Linked DNA regions of Homo sapiens. The protein of the gene in region 1 interacts with the protein of each later gene in a biochemical or structural test. Each region holds a gene or a part of one and is shown on either strand. Other genes may lie near its edges.

Region 1 (3,370 bases):
TAACAATTATTTTGTAGGTGGGGTACACTCAGCTTAAAGTAATGCATTTTTTTTTCCCGTAAAGGCAGAATCCATCTTGTTGCAGATAGCTATCTAAATAATCTCATATCCTCTTTTGCAAAGACTACAGAGAATAGGCTATGACAATCTTGTTCAAGCCTTTCCATTTTTTTCCCTGATAACTAAGTAATTTCTTTGAACATACCAAGAAGTATGTAAAAAGTCCATGGCCTTATTCATCCACAAAGTGGCATCCTAGGCCCAGCCTTATCCCTAGCAGTTGTCCCAGTGCTGCTAGGTTGCTTATCTTGTTTATCTGGAATCACTGTGGAGTGAAATTTTCCACATCATCCAGAATTGCCTTATTTAAGAAGTAAAACGTTTTAATTTTTAGCCTTTTTTTGGTGGAGTTATTTAATATGTATATCAGAGGATATACTAGATGGTAACATTTCTTTCTGTGCTTGGCTATCTTTGTGGACTTCAGGGGCTTCTAAAACAGACAGGACTGTGTTGCCTTTACTAAATGGTCTGAGACAGCTATGGTTTTGAATTTTTAGTTTTTTTTTTTTAACCCACTTCCCCTCCTGGTCTCTTCCCTCTCTGATAATTACCATTCATATGTGAGTGTTAGTGTGCCTCCTTTTAGCATTTTCTTCTTCTCTTTCTGATTCTTCATTTCTGACTGCCTAGGCAAGGAAACCAGATAACCAAACTTACTAGAACGTTCTTTAAAACACAAGTACAAACTCTGGGACAGGACCCAAGACACTTTCCTGTGAAGTGCTGAAAAAGACCTCATTGTATTGGCATTTGATATCAGTTTGATGTAGCTTAGAGTGCTTCCTGATTCTTGCTGAGTTTCAGGTAGTTGAGATAGAGAGAAGTGAGTCATATTCATATTTTCCCCCTTAGAATAATATTTTGAAAGGTTTCATTGCTTCCACTTGAATGCTGCTCTTACAAAAACTGGGGTTACAAGGGTTACTAAATTAGCATCAGTAGCCAGAGGCAATACCGTTGTCTGGAGGACACCAGCAAACAACACACAACAAAGCAAAACAAACCTTGGGAAACTAAGGCCATTTGTTTTGTTTTGGTGTCCCCTTTGAAGCCCTGCCTTCTGGCCTTACTCCTGTACAGATATTTTTGACCTATAGGTGCCTTTATGAGAATTGAGGGTCTGACATCCTGCCCCAAGGAGTAGCTAAAGTAATTGCTAGTGTTTTCAGGGATTTTAACATCAGACTGGAATGAATGAATGAAACTTTTTGTCCTTTTTTTTTCTGTTTTTTTTTTTCTAATGTAGTAAGGACTAAGGAAAACCTTTGGTGAAGACAATCATTTCTCTCTGTTGATGTGGATACTTTTCACACCGTTTATTTAAATGCTTTCTCAATAGGTCCAGAGCCAGTGTTCTTGTTCAACCTGAAAGTAATGGCTCTGGGTTGGGCCAGACAGTTGCACTCTCTAGTTTGCCCTCTGCCACAAATTTGATGTGTGACCTTTGGGCAAGTCATTTATCTTCTCTGGGCCTTAGTTGCCTCATCTGTAAAATGAGGGAGTTGGAGTAGATTAATTATTCCAGCTCTGAAATTCTAAGTGACCTTGGCTACCTTGCAGCAGTTTTGGATTTCTTCCTTATCTTTGTTCTGCTGTTTGAGGGGGCTTTTTACTTATTTCCATGTTATTCAAAGGAGACTAGGCTTGATATTTTATTACTGTTCTTTTATGGACAAAAGGTTACATAGTATGCCCTTAAGACTTAATTTTAACCAAAGGCCTAGCACCACCTTAGGGGCTGCAATAAACACTTAACGCGCGTGCGCACGCGCGCGCGCACACACACACACACACACACACACACACACAGGTCAGAGTTTAAGGCTTTCGAGTCATGACATTCTAGCTTTTGAATTGCGTGCACACACACACGCACGCACACACTCTGGTCAGAGTTTATTAAGGCTTTCGAGTCATGACATTATAGCTTTTGAGTTGGTGTGTGTGACACCACCCTCCTAAGTGGTGTGTGCTTGTAATTTTTTTTTTCAGTGAAAATGGATTGAAAACCTGTTGTTAATGCTTAGTGATATTATGCTCAAAACAAGGAAATTCCCTTGAACCGTGTCAATTAAACTGGTTTATATGACTCAAGAAAACAATACCAGTAGATGATTATTAACTTTATTCTTGGCTCTTTTTAGGTCCATTTTGATTAAGTGACTTTTGGCTGGATCATTCAGAGCTCTCTTCTAGCCTACCCTTGGATGAGTACAATTAATGAAATTCATATTTTCAAGGACCTGGGAGCCTTCCTTGGGGCTGGGTTGAGGGTGGGGGGTTGGGGAGTCCTGGTAGAGGCCAGCTTTGTGGTAGCTGGAGAGGAAGGGATGAAACCAGCTGCTGTTGCAAAGGCTGCTTGTCATTGATAGAAGGACTCACGGGCTTGGATTGATTAAGACTAAACATGGAGTTGGCAAACTTTCTTCAAGTATTGAGTTCTGTTCAATGCATTGGACATGTGATTTAAGGGAAAAGTGTGAATGCTTATAGATGATGAAAACCTGGTGGGCTGCAGAGCCCAGTTTAGAAGAAGTGAGTTGGGGGTTGGGGACAGATTTGGTGGTGGTATTTCCCAACTGTTTCCTCCCCTAAATTCAGAGGAATGCAGCTATGCCAGAAGCCAGAGAAGAGCCACTCGTAGCTTCTGCTTTGGGGACAACTGGTCAGTTGAAAGTCCCAGGAGTTCCTTTGTGGCTTTCTGTATACTTTTGCCTGGTTAAAGTCTGTGGCTAAAAAATAGTCGAACCTTTCTTGAGAACTCTGTAACAAAGTATGTTTTTGATTAAAAGAGAAAGCCAACTAAATCATTATGTGCTCATTCTTTTTCTTAAGCTTGTGGATGTCTTGGATCTGGAAAGGGTTTCTGATCACTTAGAGAATTTTCAAACTTTAGGTCAACATTTTCCTTTATTGCCTTGTGGCCACTGAAATGGGAAATGTGACATTTAAAATATGACCCTGGAATAACAGTCCCCATTCTTCTCTCATTTTTAAAAGGAGAAGGTGAAGTGATGGTGATCAGAGAGATGGGTGCTAGGGAATTATAAGAACCAGGATGCTTAAAGGAGAGGTAAAATTGGAAATTGGAGACCCTTTCATTGCCCAGCTAAGGGATAAGGAAAGCTGTTTCTCTCCCATCTGCCTTCTCTGTGAAATAGGGGTCAATGGGAGGGGAGTGGTGGTCAGGTAAGTAGATTCCGTGGCAATGGCTTGTATATAACAAGACCACATCAGCATTTTATTTCTAAGCTTGCTGACATGAGTTTCAGAGAGTTTATCGGGCTGAGAGATTTCTTCTCACCTG
Region 2 (7,299 bases), on another chromosome or scaffold:
CCCACCCCCAGTCACTGCCACCAACTCTCAGAAGTCTAAACTTTTGAGATTTACATGTGAAAACAGCGTTTCAAAACCTCGTGATTTGGGACAAGGAGACGCTTCTGTCCTTTGGGGGAAAACAAAACCCAACCGAAAATCATAAAGCTCAGAAGAAAACACCATCTCCCTCCAAATGCATTCCCTGGGCCCCCAACTCACACGTGCTCTGTAGCAGATAGGGCTTTCAATGTGTCTTTTGTTTGATGCTGATGTTTCAACATCCTCGACTTGAAGAGGGAAAGGTCAGCCCAAGGCTTGGGGTATTCACAAACCCACCCGGCCCCTGCACTGGGGCCAGGAGCCAGCAAGTGAGGGGCCAGGAATTTCCCCCACTCTGGACCCCCTCACAAAGCAGCCGGGGCTGAGAAGGCTAAGAAAGAGCTTGCTCTCTCATCTCAACTTCCCCGATAGCTCAACAGCAGCTTCACACTCCCGGGACCGTACAAGCGCCAGCGAACGCAGGCTGGAATTCACCAGCGCCAAGCTGCCCGGCTCTCCAGCCCCGGCGCCTGCCTCTTTATCTGTACCTTCAAAAACAGTAATAAGCAAACCCAGGCACCTCTGGGAACAGCCTCTGGCCTCCTGCCCTGCCCTGTGTAACCAGCCTGTCCTCACACCCACCAGGGAGGAGGAGTCGGCACTGGTTAACCCTCTGGTCTACCAGGCCCGGTTCCCAGGTTGCAGCAGGGAGACAAACTGTTGCTCAAGAAAATCCTTCAGAAAACCCTTGGCACCAGGAGGCAGCTCGGAGCGGCTCTGCACCCGGCGCGGAGCCAGGGGCTTCCACAGGCGGCCGCCCACTGCCCTTTTAAATCTTTGGGGCTGGGCCCTACTCTCCCATGCCCTGGGCTGTCCACCCAGAGGGCTCCAAATGTCCGTGGCAGAGCAGAGAGGAGGGAAAGGCTGGCCGAGCCGTGCCCTCACCCCGCCAGCCCAGCCGCCAGCTTCTTGGAGGACCTCTGAGAGAACATTTGTTTGGGCTGCCAAGTTAAATCTTCCTCCCTCATGTCAGGGCATTGGAAAAGCAGTCAGGGGAGAGGAGAAGGGGGAGAGCGCGCGGGGGAAGGAGCAGCGGGAGGGAGGGAGGGAGGGAGGCAGGCGGGCAGGCTCAAAGCCCCAGTTACTCGGGCACTGCCTACCCAGGAAGCTGACGGCTCCCGGGCAGGCGCAGCCGGGGCTCCGGGCACCGAAGCAGGGACCCGGCCGTCAGGCCTCCCCGGTCAGGCAAGGGTACCAAGCACCCTTGGCCCACCTGGGAGCGGCCCTCGCTCTGTGACCTGCTGGAGGGACGAGGTGGGAAGGGAAGGCAGAGAAGGAAAAAGTTTGCTGCAGGTAGAGGGGTAGGGCTGGGCGGCAGTGCCGACCGGCTGTCCCCGGGGAGGGGTGGGGGGCCCGGACCGGCTGCCCTGGCGCGCTCCCGTCCGCCCGCCCTCCCGCCCGGGTTGTTTACATTCCTGGAGTGTCTTTTAAACCCGGGGCTGAGGCCGGCTCCCGGCCTTCTCCGGCGGCTCCGGGGCAGTCTCCCGTGAAAATCTGCTGGCGCACAATGGCCGGGAAGGCGGCCGCCCCTCGCCCGCGCCCCCACCGCTCCAGGGCGGGGAGCCTGCCCTCCGCACCGCGCCCTATCCCCGCCCGGCCGGCTTCCTGGACAGATGTCCCCAGCGAGGGGGCGACGCGCGCCCGCTGCCCGCGCCCTAGACGCCGAGGCCGCGCTCCCCACTGTTTTTTCCCCAGCCCAGACGCCAGGAATGTGAAGCAAGCTTCCAGAACCCGCCTCCCCCCCCCGACCCCGGCTCCAGCCCCGGCCCCCCAACCTCCGCCCCGGCTGGCCTCCCACTCCCCCGGGGCCACCGCCGCCGGAGACGGAGAGGAAGAAAGAACACGGGGAAATTACTTTCGTATTTGCAACGCGCGCGCGCACACACACGCACATCTTCCCCCTGGGCTCCCCTCCTGGCCGGGGCAGCCCCGTCCAGGCACTGGCCTGAGCGCCCCTCTGGCTTGCGAAGCCCTGGGAGAAAACCCTGCACACACACCTCCGCGTTTCTCGTTTGTACCGCGCGCCAGCTTTCCCCGGGCAATTCCCACACAAACAACTTAACCGCGCCCCCACCTCCCATTTACAAAAGTGTATGTTTTCCCTGGAAATTCAGACGCACAAGTTAACACCACCACCCCTTGCCATCCTGAAATCCAGCGCTTTCCCCAGCGGTTCCTGTACACACACAGGCGCACAACTTCGCATCTCCCCAGAGGAGGCGAAGGAGACCGAGGCGGTCCTTCCCTCCCTCCTCCGATTCCCGGTCCTGCCCGGCCCCCGGGTGTAGGGAGCGAGGGCTGGAGGCGCGCCGGCAGGAGGCGGGCACCGGGTCCGCGCGCGCACGACCACACTTACGCCCCGCACACCCTGACAAACCCGGCCCCCACGCGCAGCCCAAGCCGGCTCCGCGCAGCCGGGAGCTCGCCGGCCGCCGGGCCTCGGCCCCCGGCCGCCAAGGAGAGCGGAGCGGAGCCCGCGCCGCCGGCCGGTCGCCCCGCTCCGGGGGACACTTTAAGGGAAAAACCCCAGCACCCAATCCCCACGCTTGCACCCCGAGAGTCCCCGGGGAGCGGGAGGTAGCCCCGGAGCCAGCGGGCGCCTGGCTCTGGCCCCAAACTTACCGGGCGCTGCGAGCGCCGCTGCCGCCGCTGGAGGACGCGCCGCCGCCACCGCCGGGTAGGGCAGGCTCGGGCCGGGAGGAGCGCAGCGAGGGCGCCGAGATCCGCTCGGCTCCGGCTCCTGCTCCGCGCCGGCTGGGGCTGGGGTCACCGCGCTGCGCCGGCGTTGCTCGCTCGCTCGGCCGCCCGATCGCTGCTCGCCCGCCTGCCGCCCGGCCGCCCGCTCTCCCCGGCGCCCGCCGCCGCCGCTCGCTTTTTTAATGTCCACAGACAGTGAAAAGGAACTCGGCGTTAGGGGGTGAGTAAGTGAATCAACTCGCCCGGAGCCGAGCAAGTTGAAGTGTCAGATTACATTGGCTATTCTATTTCCAAAGGGCCCCGCGCCGCCGGCCGCCCGCAAAAGCCGGTGCGGAGTCAGGCCGGAGTGGAGCGCCGCGCCGCGCCGCCGCCGCTGCCGGCGCTCGGCTTGGCTCGCGCTCTGCGCTCTCTTTCCCCTTTCCTTTTCGCCTCTCCTCGTTCTCTCCCTCGCCTTTCCTTTCCTTTCTCTTCCTCTCTTCCTCGCTCCTCGGTCTCGGCGCTCTCCCAGCTTTTCTTCTCCTGGCTCCTGGTTCCCCGCTACGCCACCAGTCCACTCACCTCTCTCCTTGCCCTACTCCCTCCGCTACTCCCTGACGCCCCCTGCAGCCCCCAGCCCCCCTGCAGGCCCCAGCCCCAGTAAGTTTGGAGAGGGGAACAAATGCTGAGCCTAGGTAGGGACCACCTTGGGGAGGAAGCCAAAATCACACTGCTCACCCGAGAGCCCCTGCCCCGCGCTGGCACGCCCCCGCCTGGAGTGCACTCGTGGCCCCGGGCGCTGTCAGGTACCCGAATTGGGGTAAGCGAGTTGGTAACTGGACCTCCAAAGCCTTCCCCTGGGGTTGACTTTGGAATTGTTCCTACAGCCCGGGGACTGGTGGTTGGGGTGGGAAGAGGACCACCACCACCAAGGGTGACTTTGAGGGAGACTAGAGCGCGGCCCCCCGACAGCTGTGGGGGAGCGGGGGTGTGGTGGCCACAGTTGATCCGCGGCACCTAGCACAGTCCAGAGACGCGTGGATTCCCCTAGGCCCGGCGCGGAGCGCCCGGGGCGCTGTGCGCGCGGGCTGCGTGGGAGCTGCTAGGCTGGGGCCTGGCCCTCTGCCCCGGACTGGGCACTGCCAGAGATAGCGGAGAGCTAAGGTACTCACGAGGCGCAGTTGGGTGCACCCACTCGCGGGAGTTCCCCTAGCCGACCCACCCCCCCCCCCCGAGAGCATCCAACTACGCGCCCACTTTGGCTCACGTCCACTGCCACTCTCACGGAAACTCCTACAAGAACGGCACACACGTTCGCTCCCTCAGCATTGCAAACACGCTCCCCCCCAAACCACAAACGCGCCCCCACACACTCGCTTACTTTCCCTCACAAAGATGCCCGCTTACACGGCCACAGCAGGCACGCTCAGAGACACGCAGTTACACACACACATCGCTGTACACAACCCCACATACAATCAAAAAACAAAACACGAAACGTTCCCCTGGGCACTAAATCCTCACGTTAACGTACACACACAAACACACGCCCTCCTCTCCCACTTCCTCTTCCATACCCCTTCCTCGAGGCCCCCCACCCCTGATTTTCGGCACCCCCAGTCCCAATCATAATTGGCGCCCGCGCAGCCCTCTTTGGACACACACGCGCCGCCCACGCACGCGCTCCCCTCCCCGGCAGGCGGGGGCGGCTTCGGCCGGGAGCCGGCGGAGCCCGCTTCGGATTCCAGGTGTGGCAGTGACTCCGCGCTCCACGTTTTGCAGGCTGCCACCGTGTCGGAGGCGAGGCGAGGAAGGGAGCTGGAATAACAAAGGCAAGTTGGGGAGAGCGCAAGGGGGCGCAGCCCCGGCCGGGCTGCGGGGGGAGCCTTGCACGGCCGGGGCTTCGGAGGCTGCAGGGTCGGGGGCGCGGGGAGCCGGAGGTGGGGGAGGAAGGGTGGGGGGAGAGGGGCGGGGCTGAGGCGTGACGTCAGAGAACAATGACACCGCCGGGGGGCGGGCACCCGGAGGCGGCCCAGGCGGGGGTCTCCCCCGGGGCCTGGGGCGGGCCGAAGATGTCCAGGCCTGGCCGGAGCCGCCTCCTGATTGACGAGGCCCGCATGGGAGTGCGGACGTGCAGCACAGATTTGCGGGTCTCCTGGGCCTCTTGGGCGGTGATCAGCGCGGACCTTGGGCCAACCGGGGAAGCAGGCCGGAGCACTACCCCCCACCCCCATTTTAGAACATCCTTCTGAGGGCTTCGCTGACCTCGGCTTGAACTCCTTCAGAGCCGGAGAGATCACTCCTTCCACCACCGAGGGAGAGGAGGCAAAATGAATTTGCCAGCTTTGAATTCATTCTCAAGGCTCCGCTAGTCTCACAGCCAGTGAACTCAGTCTGGAATTCCTGAAAGCTCAGAAAACTGCTGCTTAGGTCCACCCGGGCGTGGGGGACGGGGTGTGTGGGGGCGCAGGCGGCGGAGTGGGGGCGTTATTTTATTTTCCCCAGGGGAAATTCTGCCTCCCTATGCCATTGGGTGCAAGAAAAGGCACTCCTTTGGGGCCTCAGTCTTCCTACCTGTCACATGGACATGGACTGTGATGACTGCTGCTCTTCCACCCCCGCCCTCCCTGTAGGTGGCAGCTGAGCATCCCTGGAGAGGGTGGGTGGTATGAAAGCACTTCCAGACCTCTAGGGACACCAGGGAGTCATGGTCCCAGCACATTGCTGTGTGATTGAGCCCCTCCTCAGCCTGTGGGTGGCCTAAGTTCACAGGTAGGTACACCAGGGCCACCTGAGAAACCTCCGAAGGTAGGAATTAAGCTTGCAGAACGGTGGCTGCAGCCACAGCTGTCCCACTCCCAGCAATCCACAGCATTGCAGCAGTGGCAGCAGCCACCCCATACCCAGGTCCAAAATCCCAAAAGAGAGTTTCTGGGTATTTAAGGATTTGGGATGTGATAATCCAGCCCAGCCCACAATTAGACCAGTTCTTGTTGCCTTAATGACCAGCTAGGTCTGGACGCCCAGCCCTCTCAACCTTTCTGTCCAGATTCCTCAATAAGTATCCAGGGCCTGCCCACTTCCAGGAATTGGGGGATGCAGGTGACCTCGGAGGTGACCACTCATGTTCAAAGTCTCCTGTCCAGAAGCTCCACCCCCTACCCCACATCCCAGCCCCCTACTCTCCCACCAGTATTTACATCTGAAACCCAGGAAGTGGCTGCAGAGGGCAGAGGAGCCAAGTAGGCTCAACTTAGTAGCATGGAACCAGGGATCATTTCAACCCTCCCCTTCTGTGCAAGCATGGCAGCAAGTCAGAAAGCCCACCAGGGTCCTGGGTCTTCCCTAGGCTCCAGTCCTTGGGTCTCTGAGGCCCTTGCTCTCTTTGTTCATCTTCCAGGGAGGTAATGGGGTAGATTGGATACCTCTGGGGTCTTGGAAGAAGCTATGACTTATTTACTGTCTACTATGTGGTGAGTACTGTGGTGGGTCCTCCTAGGTATTGAGAATTCAGTTCCCTGATTGAACTGTCACATTGTCTTAAGTTAGGTGCCGCTACCATCCCCCTTTCAGAGGAAACTCAACTGTGAATGACTTGCCCAAGATTGGTCAGGATGGGAACTCGGGCCCCCATGAACAGAGTTTCCTGTTGTCCCCTCAGCCCTGGCTCTGTTCATCCATAGACTGTGTAGCCCCAAGCAAGCTGCTTTCCCCCTCTGAGCCCCTGTAAGGTCCATGGTGCCATCAGGACTCACTGGGAACTGTGTGTCCAACAACCTCACCCCCAAAGTCTCAGCCTCACTGGGCCTGGAGATCTGCTGGTGAGACAAGAGAGGACAGTGCCATCACTTCCTCGTGGCCCAGAGCTGGAAGATGCATCCTGCTCAGCCCCTGCAGGCCCAGAAGTCACCTGGCTCCACTAGGAGGGCATGGGCAGTGTGGGGCCGCCAGGTTGTACCAACCTTCAGAGCACACTCAAGTGCTGTTAATTTCCCTGTCCTGTGGGAGCCACCAGCAGATTGGGGAGAGGACCATTGCTGGGGCCTGGGCCCAGGTTTCAGGAGGCAGAAAATCTGGAGGCCAGCAGGATGGTGGGGGTGGGAGGCTTGAGGTCCCTGAGGGAAGCAAAGGACTTGTGTAGGGTGCGGCGAGTATGGCCTCCTAGGCTGGGCTGGGATGGGGGCGGGTACACAGTGGGGATTCCCACCTGTCCAGGAGCTGCCTTCTCTGTCCCCACTCTCCACCTCTCACTTCTGGAACTTAAGGGAGCCAGGGAACATCTAAAATTGAGACTAGAGAGGTGGGAAGAAAATCTCATTCATTGAGTACTTACTGTATGCCACGCACTTTGGAAACATTCGTTGTATTCTCTCCACAAGCCAGGTGTCATTCCCTGCTAAGGGAAGAGGCTCAGAGAGGTTAAGTGACCTGCTCAAGATCTCATAGCTGGCTGAGCATGGTGGCTCATGCCTGTAATCTGTGCACTTTAGGAGGCCAAGGCAGGGTAGATCACTTGAGCTCAGGAGTTCGAGACCAGCCTGGGCA
Region 3 (5,172 bases), on another chromosome or scaffold:
TGCCTTTCAGATATTTGTCTTTGTCCTTTCCACCATCTTAAATACCTCTGTTGTCTGCCAGGAAATATCCTCATAGACTTCTTTATCAGTTTCAAAAGTGGATTTGCAAGAAAAGCTTCTTTCCCCCTCTGCCCTCAGTGGCATTTTTCAATCGAGCCCTCACTCACCTGACTTTACTGTTTTACCGCCTCACCCATTTACAGGCTTGCATATCTTCAGAACAGTTCAATTCTATTCCTCAGCTTCTTCAAAGACCAAATGGAAGTAAGAAGCAGCATGTTCTGACTAACATCCCTTTAGAGAAATAAATTAGATGAAACACTTGCAGCAGTTAAAATTGTGCCTGGTGATTGGTCTTTAAAAATACTGTCTTTTGTTTGCATATTGTCTTCCTCCATGCCCTCTTCCTTTCTAAATTCTTTTATCCATCCTTCTGGAATCTGTTTCTCCCAAGGACTTTTATCCCTCTTGGCCTGCATGGGCTATGTTCACTGCACAGTGTAAAACAAGGACAGGAGACTCTTTGCCAAAGTTAAAAGCGCATCAAACACGCCTAGCTTTTATTATTTTAATCACAAACCTATAGACCCCTCAGTATACCCTCCATGGGGCCTGGCCCCAGCAATCCAAAGCTGACAACCTTGGGTGTAGGTATGAGGGGTGGGAATGGAGGGGGGAGTGTCTCTTGATAACTCTGAAATGGGGTGATTCCTCCAAATGAAGAACTGGGTGGGGAACAGAGGTTGGGGTGGCCTAGATTCTCAGTATGCGGAGCAATAAAAAAATCAGATAAACAAATGAGGGGGTACAATATGCTTTTACAACCCTCCTCCAAGCTTCTGCCTTGCTGGGGGAAGGCTTCCAGTTTTTCCTGGGCTGGGGAGGTCCCAGGATAGCCCCTTCCTTCATCCTCTTGCCCTACATGTTGAAAAAGAATACTGAGGTACTGGTTCTGGTAACCTGAACTCAGTCCCCCACTAATACCCATCACCTTCCCAAACTGCCCCTCAAGGAAGAAGGCAGGACTCTGCCCAAGGGTGGGGGCCTCTCACTCCAGATATAGGTCTGGAAAATTCATCCATGAAATTTCATAATCTGTCCCCTTCCCCAAGAGCAAGGTTGGCTCAGAGCCCTCCTAGGTTAGGTCAGGTTGGTCCCAGGTTAAGGCAGGGGAGCTTAAGTACCACTCCTCCCTGCAGTGTGGAATGCTTAGATGGGATGTTGCTGAGGGACAAGGGTGGGGCTGTGATCTCCACAAGCACTAGCGGTGGCCTGGTCCTACTGATTCTTTCACACCTGAAATACCTGTGCTGGGCTGTTCCTATAGGGAAGGGGTGGGGCCTGGCTCCTCCATTCCTAGAAGGCCAGGAGAGTTCCCAGGGGAAGGGGCTGGGTCTCATCCTCACTTCTGTTCCTTGCCTGGGCAGAGCAGGGCAGGGTTCATGGGGAAGGGGCAGAGCTTAAACCCCCAGGGCTGGGACCTCCATTACTTGACTCCTCTTCTGTGCCAGGACGGACTAGACTGGTGGTTCCAAGACAAAGGATGGAGCAACATCCTGACATCTCCCTTTCCCAGGAGACCTGGCTAGGACAGTCCCTAGGGGACAGGGTCGAGACCTCATCCTGTCTCCTTCCCTCACCTGGGCAAGGATGAGTCCCACAGGGGCAGGGGTGAGGCTGTGATCCCCAGGGGGCAGGCCCTGATCTCATGTCCTTCTCCAGCCTTCTCCTTCTGAAATACCTGCACTGGGCGGTTCCTTTGGGGAAGGTGCAGGGCCTCATCTGACTCCTCCTCCTTGCCTGATTACAGGGGTGGGGCCTGATCACATCTCCTCTTCCCCCAGGATACCTGGGCAGGGCAGTCTCATGGGAGGGTGGGGGAAAAGGCGGGGCCTCATCCTGACTGGTCCTCCTTTCCTGGGTGGGAAAGTCCCAGGGGAGGGGTGAGGCCTGATCAGGACTCCTCTTCCATGCTGAAGCTGCTGCGGCGGCTGCTGGCCTTGGAGACAGCAGGGGACACTGAAGAGAGCAGGGGATCGGAGGCAGCCCGCAGTGGGGACAGGGCACCCCCCGACAGTCCTCCCACCACCCCCTCCTCCTCCTCCATCAGAATGTCCTCCAGCCCCAGGTGGAAGGGGTCTCCCAGGTCCCCCAGGTGGTCGCTGGGAAAGTGCAGGTCCAGAAGGGCATCTGAGGGCGGTGCAGGGGGCTGCTGATGGGGAGCATTCTGGGCAGGTCCCCCCCCTACATGGAACGTTGCTGCGCCTGGCCTGCCCTCCTCCTCAATGTCCAGCTGCTCTGGCTTGAGGCTGTCAGAAGCCGAAGTCGTGGCCAAGGAAAGCAGCCCTGGAGTGGGAGGTACTGGCAGGCCATGGATCTGGGCCTGCAGTTCTAGTTCCTGTAAAAAATAGGGGTTGGGTGCAGGATAAGTAGGGTTCAGAGTCCCTCAGAGGCAGAGGAGTATAAAGGTTGAAAAGGGTAGGTTCCCTGGGTTGGAATTCAGCTTCTGCTACTCACTAGTTCCAAAACTTTAGGCAAGGTGCTTAACATCTCTGAAGCTTCAGAGTCGCAAACTGTAAAGTGGGTATATAATAATGGCCCCTAGGCTGGGCGCGGTGGCTCACGCCTGTAATCACTTTGGGAGGCCGAGGCAGGTGGATCACCTGAGGTCAGGAGTTCGAGACCAGCTTGACCAACATGGAGAAACCCCATCTCTACTAAAAATACAAAAATTAGCTGGGTGTGGTGGTGCATGCCTATAATCCTAGCTACTCAGGAGGCTGAGACAGGAGAATTGCTTGAACCCGGGAGGCGGAGGTTGCGGTGAGCCGAGATTGCGCCATTGCACTCCAGCCTGGGCAACGAGCGAAACTCCATCTCAAAAATAAATAAATAAATAAATAAAATAATGGCCCCTATCTCATAGAATTCTGAGGATTGAATAAGTTAGTGGATATAAAGCTCTTGTCACAGTACAGAGCACAAGATAAATGCTATGTACATTAGCAATATTATTATCCTTGTTAATATTATGATTATTATTTATCATTATCACTATCATCATCGTGTGATCTGGGAAGCCCAGGGATCCCCCAAGTATGCCAGGAAGGGAAACCCTGGCCTGCTCTCTCTCTGCCTCCACCTGCAGGAAGCTCTCCCCCTCTTCCCCCACCACCATCTCCTCTTTTCAAACCTGAATTCGGAGCTGCAGGCTGCGGTTGGCCTGCTCCAGGGATCGCTGCCGGCTCTCCAGGTCTTTGGAGCGCTGCTGCTCCTTCTGCAGCTTGCGGATATAATCCACAGAGGCCTTCAGGATGGTGCCCTTGTTCCAGCGCATCTCCCTGTGGGGCCCAAGTGGGAGGCAAGCAGGAAATGCCACATGAGGAGTTTCTCAGGAGCTGAGGCGGGGATTGCACCAGGTGGGAGCCTCCCACCACATGCTTAGAACTTGAGGCTGGGGTCTTTCAAAGGTATGGAGTATCCAGAGGAAAACTTCCCGCCTGGAATCTTACAATGGTGCCCCATCACACTCCAAACCCTGGAAGCCGTCTCTGACCTGACCCCTTAGGATTCCTCTCTTCCCTATGTCCCTCCGATTGATCTCACTACAGCCACATTGGTCTCTCAGTGCTCCTAGAATATGGAAAACCACTCCCATCTCAGGGCATCAATCCCAGCCGTGCCCTCTGCCTTGAATACTCTTACCCCCAGACACCCATGCGGCTCCCCGCCTTGCCTCCTTAGGCTCTTTATTCAAACGTTTCCTTGTCAGTTGGGGCCTGCCCTGTCCTCACCTTCCTTATCCCAAACTAACCCTCCCCAACATTCTCCCATTTTCCTTCCAGTCTTTATTCTTCTCATAACACTCATCATAATGGATCTCATGGATGTTTACTTATTTACTATTTGTCTGCCCCCACTAAAACATCAGTTTCATGAGGTCTGTTTTGTTCCCTCTGGTATCTTTAGGGCCTAATATGGTACCTGGCACAAACCAGAGGTTCAAAAAATAAATCTTTCTCTTTTCCTTTTTTTTTGCGGGGCGGTGGGGGATGGAGTCTCGCTCTGTCACCCAGGCTGGAGAGCAGTGGCACAATCTTGGCTCACTACAACCTCCACTTCTCAGGTTCAAGCGATTCTCCTGCCTCAGCCTTCTGAGTAGCTGAGATGACAGGCCTACGCCACCACGCCCAGCTAATTTTTTTTGTATTTTTTGTAGAGATGGGGTTTCACCATGTTGGCCAGGCTGGTCTCAAACTCCTGACCTCAGGTGATCCACCCGTCTCGGCCTCCCCAAGTGCTGGGATTACAGGTGCCCACCACCACGCCCCGCTAATTTTTATATTTTTAATAGAAATGGGGTTTCACCATGTTGGCCAGAATGGTCTCAATCTCCTGACCTTGTGATCCACCCGCCTCGGCCTCCCAAAGTGCTGGGATTACAGGCGTGAGCCACTGCACCCGGCCATCTTTTTTTTTTTTTGTTTTTGAGACAAAGTCTTGCTCTGTCACCCAGGCTGGAGTGCAGTGGCACCATATTGGCTCACTGCAACCTCCACCTCCCGGGTTCAAGTGATTCTCCTGCCTCAGCATCCCGAGTAGCGGGGATTACAGGTGCGTGCCACCACGCCCAGCTAAATTTTTTTTATTTTTAGTGGAGACAGGGTTTCACCATGTTGGCCTTCACCTCCTGACCTCGTGATCCGCCTGCCTTGGCCTCCCAAAGTGCCAGGATTACAAGTGTGAGCCACTGCACCTGGCTAATTTTTGTATTTTTTAGTAGAGACGGGGTTTCATCATGTTGGCCAGGCTAGTCTGAAACTCCTGACCTTAGGTGATCGACCCCGCCTTGGCCTCCCAAAGTGCTGGGATTACAGGCATGAGCCACCACACCCGGCCAATAAATAAATCTTGAATAAATAAAGGAAGTACCATTGCACCACTGCACTCCAGCCTGGGTGACAGCGTGAGACTCCATCTCAAAAAAAAGAAAAAAAAAAAGGAAGTACTAAGTGAACAGAAAAGTAGGTGCATATATCCTACGGGGACCAGATGGGGCACACAGACCATAACATTATGTGCCTAAAATTTTAGGTGCTGACATAGTGAGGGTCTGCAACCCTGCTCAGGCTGAGAAAGAACCAGACAGAGGAGAAATGCCTGGGCCGAGAC
Region 4 (7,040 bases), on another chromosome or scaffold:
AAAATAATGTTATTGAGAGGTCGATCCCTCTGTTCTTTCATTACTACATGAGTGGTTGTCTTTTATGACTGGTTCTGTCCTCTTTCCCAACCCACAGAAGTTCTGGATTATGTACAGTGTCTTATTTGAGAGTTCTTTAGAAAGCTTGGATTATTCATGATGGCGTATTTTTTATTTTTGACTTATTCAAAAATTCATTATCTTTAAGATTGGTTTGCAAATTGCAACTTTTTTGTTAGGCAGCTTTTGGGGCCTAAAGACAACTGACAGTATATGATAGTCATGGGGTACTTGTTTTCCTGGATTCCTCTAAGGTCTTAACTCTTACAAGGGCAGGTTCCTTCCCTTGTTTTCTAAAGCTTAGGGAGTCAGCAGGAGTTATTACTGATATCTGGTCTTTTCCCTTTTTTTTTTGTATTGAGTTGCTTCATAAGGATTGCCTTTCTCCATTGATGCCAATTTAAAAGAATTTGTCAAATACTCTTCTAAATTTTGATACAAAGCTTTGAGATCTCGTCTAAATGCACTCATTTTTTTCTTCTTTTAAGTGTAATTCTTTGATATTTGTACACCAAGCTCTTTTTTCTTAGACACTTTCTTTGTTCCCTGCTATTCATCTTTCTGCTTTTAAAAAGGAAGGGATCGGCCGGGTGCAGTGGCTCACGCCTGTAATCCCAGCACTTTGGGAGGCCGAGGTGGGCGGATCACGAGGTCAGGAGATCAAGACCATCCTGGCTAACACGGTGAAACCCTGTCTCTACTAAAAATACAAAAAATTAGCTGGGCATGGTGGCAGGCACCTGTAGTCCCAGCTACTTGAGAGGCTGAGGCAGGAGAATATCGTGAACCCAGGAGGCGGAGCTTGCAGTGAGCCGAGGTCGTGCCACTGCACTCCAGCCTGGGTGACAGAGCGAGACTCCCTCTCATAAAAAATAAATAAATTAATAGGAAAGGATCTTTACCCTCACTCCCTTCATTACTCTTCATTAGCAATATAAATCTCTAGAAACTCTGTTATTAGAACCTTAGTTTCTATGATATTTGGTAAAAGTACTTTACTGGCTTTATTGTTATCATACAGAGGCACTGATTGTAGAAAGTAGGAGATTTAGTGTAGTGGGTGGCTGGATTTAATACAATTCACGGAGGCTTATATGGTACTGATTCTAATTAAAGGAGACGCAAGAAACTGTGTTTGGAAAATGTGAGACTATTTTGCGTACCTTGGATAAAGGTATACCAGGATGTCAGACTGTCACTTTGCAGCTATTACTTCATATAGTAGAAGCTTGGATTTGGAGTCAAAAAACCTGAAACTGAATCCTAGTTATATTATTTGTAACTCATTATTTGTGTGACCTCAGGCACAGGCCTTATCATTCAAAGCTTGTCTCCTAATCTATAGAATAGTGTTCTGTTAACACCCCGGGTATATCGTAGAGAAACAAATGAAAAACGGTGAAGTGTTAGGTACATGTGAAGAGTAAAGGATCATGTACCGAATCCCTCTGATATGGGAACCAAGGATGTTTCCTATTGTAGGATTCAAGGCATTTTCCGTCTAACTCAGGAGCGCTATGTAAATATCTATTTGTTGCAAGAAAAACATTATTGTAATGATGGGCAGCCATTATAGCCAATCCAATTGAATGATATTTCATTCAGCAACTGTGTGTCTATCTTGGGATATATGTATGAAAAAAGTAAGACAAAAGCTCCATTTGCATGGGGCTTACATCCTAGTGGGGGGAGGACAATAAATACTAAAAATAAGTGGTATGGATAAAAGAGGAAGGTTAGAGATATTGAGCTTGGGAGCATTAAAAAGGATAGTTCAAGTAGGCCTCATGAAAAAGGTGACATCTGAACAAAGGCTTGGAGGAGATGAGATAGCTGTGCAGCTTCTGGGGCAGTAATCCAGGAAGAGGTTTTTAGGTAGAAGCACACACGCAGAGAGAGTGGCAAGGAGCCCGGTGTGGCTGGAGAGTAGGAGCTGGAGAAGAGCCATAGGAAATGAAGTCAGAGTGGGGAGTATATCAGGTGGGGCCTTGGTGGCCTCAGTAAGGACTTTGGCCTTTACTCTGAGAGACTGTCTTTGGAGACTTCTCGTCAGAGGAGGAGTATGATCTGACTTAAATTTTTTGTTTACAGATGTAAGTGCTGATAATATTGTATAATGTTCTAATGCATTCTTTTTTGAAATGAAAATAAAGTACATAGTAGATAACATTTCTACAGATTAAATGGTAACTACATATTTTTTTTTCTTCTATTAAATCTAAGGTCAGCTTCCCCTTACCATGGTTTTACCATTGTGAATCGACTAAATATGCACAATCTAGTTGAACCAGTGAATAAAGATTTGGAATTTCAGCTCCATGAACCATTTCTTCTGTATAGAAATGCAAGCTGTGAGTATATCTGTTTTATTATAGTTATTACATTTAAAATTGAGTGACTTTAGTTTCTATCAATCCATTATTTAGGAAGTTTCAAATTACAAAACAAAATATGGTCTCTACTTAATGATTATAAATGAGTCTGTTGGAAAGATCAAACCTTTTAAACTGGGCTCTGAGGCCAGAGGTGGTGGCTCATGCCTGTAATCCCAGCACTTTGGGAGGCCGAGGAGGGCAGATCACTTGAGGTCAGGAGTTCGAGACCAGCCAGGCCAACATGGTGAAACCCCGTATCTACTAAAAATACAGAAAAAAATTAGCCGGGCTTGGTGGCAGGCGCCTGTAATCACTTGAACCTGGGAGGTGGAGGTTGCAGTGAGCTGAGATCGCGCCACTGTACTCCAGCCTGGGCAACAGAATGAGACTGTGTCTCAAAAAAATAAATAAATAAACTGGGCTCTGAAACTGGAAACATTCTTTTGTATATAATTTAGTTTACTATTTCATTTAATAGCACTACATTTCTGTTGTCGGTTTATTAAAATAAGGTTTATGCCTTTGTTTTTTTGCAGCTGTGGACTATCAGCTGCCCATGTCCCTAAGCAACAGAACTTAGTTTGGGACACACAGGATGGGAACAGATACAGATAATTCTTTCCACAAAGAAAGTATTATTATTACTATTATTATTTTCTTTTTTTTGAGACGGAGTCTTGCTCTGTTGCCCAGGCTGGAGTGCAGTGGTGTGATCTAGGCTCATGCAAGCTCTGCCTCCCGGATTCATGCCCTTCTCCTGGCTCGGCCTCCCAAGTAGCTGGGACTACAGGCACCCGCCACCACGCCTGGCTAATTTTTTTGTATTTTTGGTAGAGAAGGGGTTTCACCGTGTTAGCCAGGATGGTCTTGATCTCCTGACCTTGTGATCTGCCTGCCTCGGCCTCCCAAAATGCTGGGATTATAGGCATGAGCCACCACGCCCGGCCAGAAAATATTATTTTTGCCCAGAATAGTGGTGATGGGTTTTTTTTTTTAAGATATTTATTACTTTTTCTACTTTATTTTGTCTGAATATGTTTCTAAGTAAGGTTTTTCTATCTGTTTATTTAATTGAGTGTCTACTGGTTACCAGCACTGAGCCAAGAGCTGTGGTGCTTTAATGTTAACGATACAGTTACCTATGTGGTGTAAGCAGGCAGTTAAGTCAACTGAGACTCAGAGATGCATAACTATTACCCTGTTGGAGAGTTAGGATTATGACTATTCTTCTGCTTTTTAGTCCAGGGTTCTTTCAGGCATTTTTACAATCTCTAATAACGATTGGATGTAGTCAGCAAAGCTAGAGTGGCCCTTCCAAGAAACTACAGTACTAAAAAATATACTTGATTCCAGTGTATTAGTATGGATATTGAAGGTATGGGTGTTTGAGGACAGTTTGTTGGACATTGACTATAGGGATATGAAAACTGGTTATGGTAACAATGATTGTGCTCTAATTGGCATCTAAGGATATAGTTGGAGAAATGTTGCTTCTAACTTAAAAAGTAAAAGTTAATGTGTTTGAATTTCACTTGGCGGGGGGGTAATTGGTCTTGGGGGATGTCTTCAGTATAAAATAGAAAAAGTTACTAAAAATTATACACCTCTTAATTCCCTGAATGAGAAGTAACAAGGCCTATTTTAAAGCTAGAAACCCCCAAGTTCTTTTCCGTAGCACACTTTGAAGTATAAGTGAAATAGGTTCTATCTTTTGACTTCTCAGTAAACTATTTGTCCAGGTAATTACCTCTCAGATTTTAAATTCTGTGGACATATTAGACATGCTTTGTAATAGCTGTAAGTTCAGATGGATTTATTTAAACTAATGTTAACAATGTAATTATTTCAGATTGCTCTTTTCTTTGTACTGAATATTCCATTAAAGGGAAAATTCGGCTGGGCAAAGTGGCTCAACACCTGCAATCCCACGATTTTGGGAGACCGAGGCAAGCAGATTGCTTGAGCCCAGGAGTTTGAGACCAGCCTGGGCAACATGTCAAAACCCCCACTCCACAAAAAAATAGAAAAATTAGCCAGGTGTGGTGTCACACACTTGTAGTCCCAGCTACCCAGGAGGCTGAGGTGGGAAAGTCGCTTGAACCCAGGAGGCTGTCCAGGCTGCAGTGAGCCATGATTGCGCCACTGCACTCCAGCCTGGGCAACAAGCGAGACCCTGACTCAAAAAATGAAAAGAGGGTGGGAGAAATTCTGCAAATGAATATGGATCCAATTTTTTTTTAAGTGAAATAGGCTTAATTCTGTTCTTTACTGCCTGGAAACTTAATCTAGCCATCACTCCTAAGTGGTTTGATTATTAAAGTAGTCAGTAGGGAAAGTTATCCGGACCCAGTTACCATTTAGCATAAACCTGAGATGAATTGTATTATATTTTTTTCACAAGGCAAAAGTCCTGTGAAATTGAAAGTGTGACATAACACAAATGTAATTGAACCATGAGTAACCAGAAGCTAACTAATTAGAGCTTCAGTTGTCTGGAAATATTTTTATAGTTCGTGTGTGGAAGAAATGAAGGCAAATTATAAGAAAACAAGCTAATACTAGGTTTTATTTTCTGAAAATCAAGCAGATATCCAGAGAATAACCTGGGGTCGGCATTAAAATGTCAATATTTTATAACTTTAACTCCACTGTAGTATCATAGGTTAAATTGTTATAGTGAGACCTAAAATCATCAGGAGTATTTATTATGTTAACTAGAACATTCTTGGGGAGAAAGTGCATTAATGCATTTTACTTTAGAAAATTTTCAACTGATTGAAACAAAAGTTTTCTTAGTTGAACAGAAAACTCACTTAACCAGGTCATTTCATTAGGGAAAGTATTTAAAGGAATAGCTGTATTGGGGAGAAGTGATAAGACAACAGAAAATGATTTTGTGAGTGTTAAGCCCTCTCGAGTGTGTGTTTTGTCTACATAGTCTTAAAAGTGGAAAATAGTCTTGTCAGGTCAGCGAGCTATTAAGTTGTTTAGGGATTTGTTCTTTAAATAAAAAGTTAGTATCTGATTATGCATACAGGTAATTATACCTGATTCTATAGCTGCACTTCTGCCATTCTCTTGTGGGAAATACCATCAAGACACCTGACCCATTTAACTCAAGTGACACCTTCATATCCAACTTCTTTCATTCAAATTAATTTTTGGAGTTAATGTACTAGAACAGTGAACCATAACTTTTTTTCAGTTCTAAGTTATTTGTTTTATTTATTTTTAAGAGTTTTTCTTTTTTTTTTTTTTTGAGACGGAGCCTTGCTCTGTCACCCAGGCTGGAGTGCAGTGGCATGATCTTGGCTCACTGCAAGCTCTGCCTCCCAGGTTCACGCCATTCTCCTGCCTCAGCCTCCCGAGTAGCTGGGACTACAGGCGCCCACCACCACGCCCGGCTAATTTTTTCTATTTTTAGTAGAGACGGGGTTTCACCGTGTTAGCTAGGATGGTCTCGATCTCCTGACCTCGTGATCCACCTGCCTTGGCCTTCCAAAGTGCTGGGATTACAGGAGTGAGCCACCGCGCCCAGCCAAGAGTTTTTCTTTATAAAACATGCCCATCTACACCCACCCCACCCCTCAAGAAAAAGATAAAATCTTAAAGAGAAAATTCTTACACTGACTAAGGGCTTAGGCTTGGTGATTCTCTTAAATCTTTGTGGGGTAGTGGTGGTGGTGGTGGTGGTTGTTTTCAAAAGACAAGGTCTCACTGTGTTGCCCAGGCTGGTCTTGAACTCCTGGGCTCAAGCAATTCTCCCGCCTCAGCCTCCCGAAGTGCTAGCATGGGCCACCATGTCCAGCCTCTTGAATCTTTTGGGAACAGTGTATTTTTATTCTGTGCAAGGGCCTTTTGGCAGTCACAAGACCCCAGTGGGATTGCAATGAATTATGGGGAGGTTATAAATTCTGGAGTTATTGAGTAGCAGTGGTATTTCTAGCACCTTATTTCTGATCCTCAACTTACAGGTTGAGAAAACAAGAGGCTCAGAGCTGTTTAGGAATCTGCTCGAGATTCGCAAAGGTAATAAGTGACAGATGGAGAATTTGGGAGTAGGTCTTTCGGGCTTCAAGGCCAATGTTCTTTCCACTCTACTGTAACAATAAAATTACTTCATCAATCCATATTCTAGAGTAGTGCTATCCACTAAAACTTTGCAATTAGGGAAAATGATAGTTCCGTGTCAGCACTGTCCCATATAGTAGCCTGCAATGTGGCTAGGGCAAATGAAGAACACTTCTTTTTAGTTTATTTAATTTAATATATTAGAATTTACATGGCTGTATGTGCTGGCAGCTGCCATACTGGACAGTGGAAGTCTCAGCATGAGCTCATGTGCTAACATGCTCTTTGTTGTGCCATACCTGAATCAAACAACTACTTGGGAAGCTTTGGCTTAGATTTTTATGCGTCCTATTTAGTCATTCCTTTTTGAAACTTACAAATGATTTCTAGATACAAAAGCTGCAGAATATATCCCTGAGGGTGGCTTTGCCATGGTAACATTCTTTTGGCATGGAATTTAGTTTGCAGATAAGAATTCTATTCTGGGCTTTGCCTTACTGACTATAACCTTGGCTAAATCATTTAAACCACTGA

Evidence for each region.
Region 2: the proteins of SMAD4 (region 1) and ZMIZ1 form a complex in vitro, tested with the Homo sapiens proteins (one study listed by BioGRID).
Region 3: the proteins of SMAD4 (region 1) and TFE3 form a complex in vitro, tested with the Homo sapiens proteins (2 studies listed by BioGRID).
Region 4: the proteins of SMAD4 (region 1) and DCP1A form a complex in vitro, tested with the Homo sapiens proteins (one study listed by BioGRID).

What each region holds. Positions count from the first base shown.
Region 1 is NC_000018.10:51,082,173-51,085,542, forward strand, and holds the end of SMAD4 (mothers against decapentaplegic homolog 4), read left to right. Parts: 3' UTR 1-2,870; downstream 2,871-3,370. UniProt on the Homo sapiens protein: In muscle physiology, plays a central role in the balance between atrophy and hypertrophy. When recruited by MSTN, promotes atrophy response via phosphorylated SMAD2/4.
Region 2 is NC_000010.11:79,064,675-79,071,973, reverse strand, and holds the start of ZMIZ1 (zinc finger MIZ domain-containing protein 1), read right to left. Parts: upstream 3,009-7,299; 5' UTR 2,704-3,008; intron 1-2,703. UniProt on the Homo sapiens protein: Acts as a transcriptional coactivator. Increases ligand-dependent transcriptional activity of AR and promotes AR sumoylation. The stimulation of AR activity is dependent upon sumoylation.
Region 3 is NC_000023.11:49,028,204-49,033,375, forward strand, and holds the end of TFE3 (transcription factor E3), read right to left. Parts: intron 4,979-5,172; coding exon of another isoform or gene 4,933-4,978; intron 3,342-4,932; coding exon 3,194-3,341; intron 2,399-3,193; coding exon 1,955-2,398; 3' UTR 523-1,954; downstream 1-522. UniProt on the Homo sapiens protein: Transcription factor that acts as a master regulator of lysosomal biogenesis and immune response.
Region 4 is NC_000003.12:53,337,515-53,344,554, reverse strand, and holds part of DCP1A (mRNA-decapping enzyme 1A), read left to right. Parts: intron 1-2,283; coding exon 2,284-2,411; intron 2,412-6,409; coding exon of another isoform or gene 6,410-6,464; intron 6,465-7,040. UniProt on the Homo sapiens protein: Necessary for the degradation of mRNAs, both in normal mRNA turnover and in nonsense-mediated mRNA decay. Removes the 7-methyl guanine cap structure from mRNA molecules, yielding a 5'-phosphorylated mRNA fragment and 7m-GDP.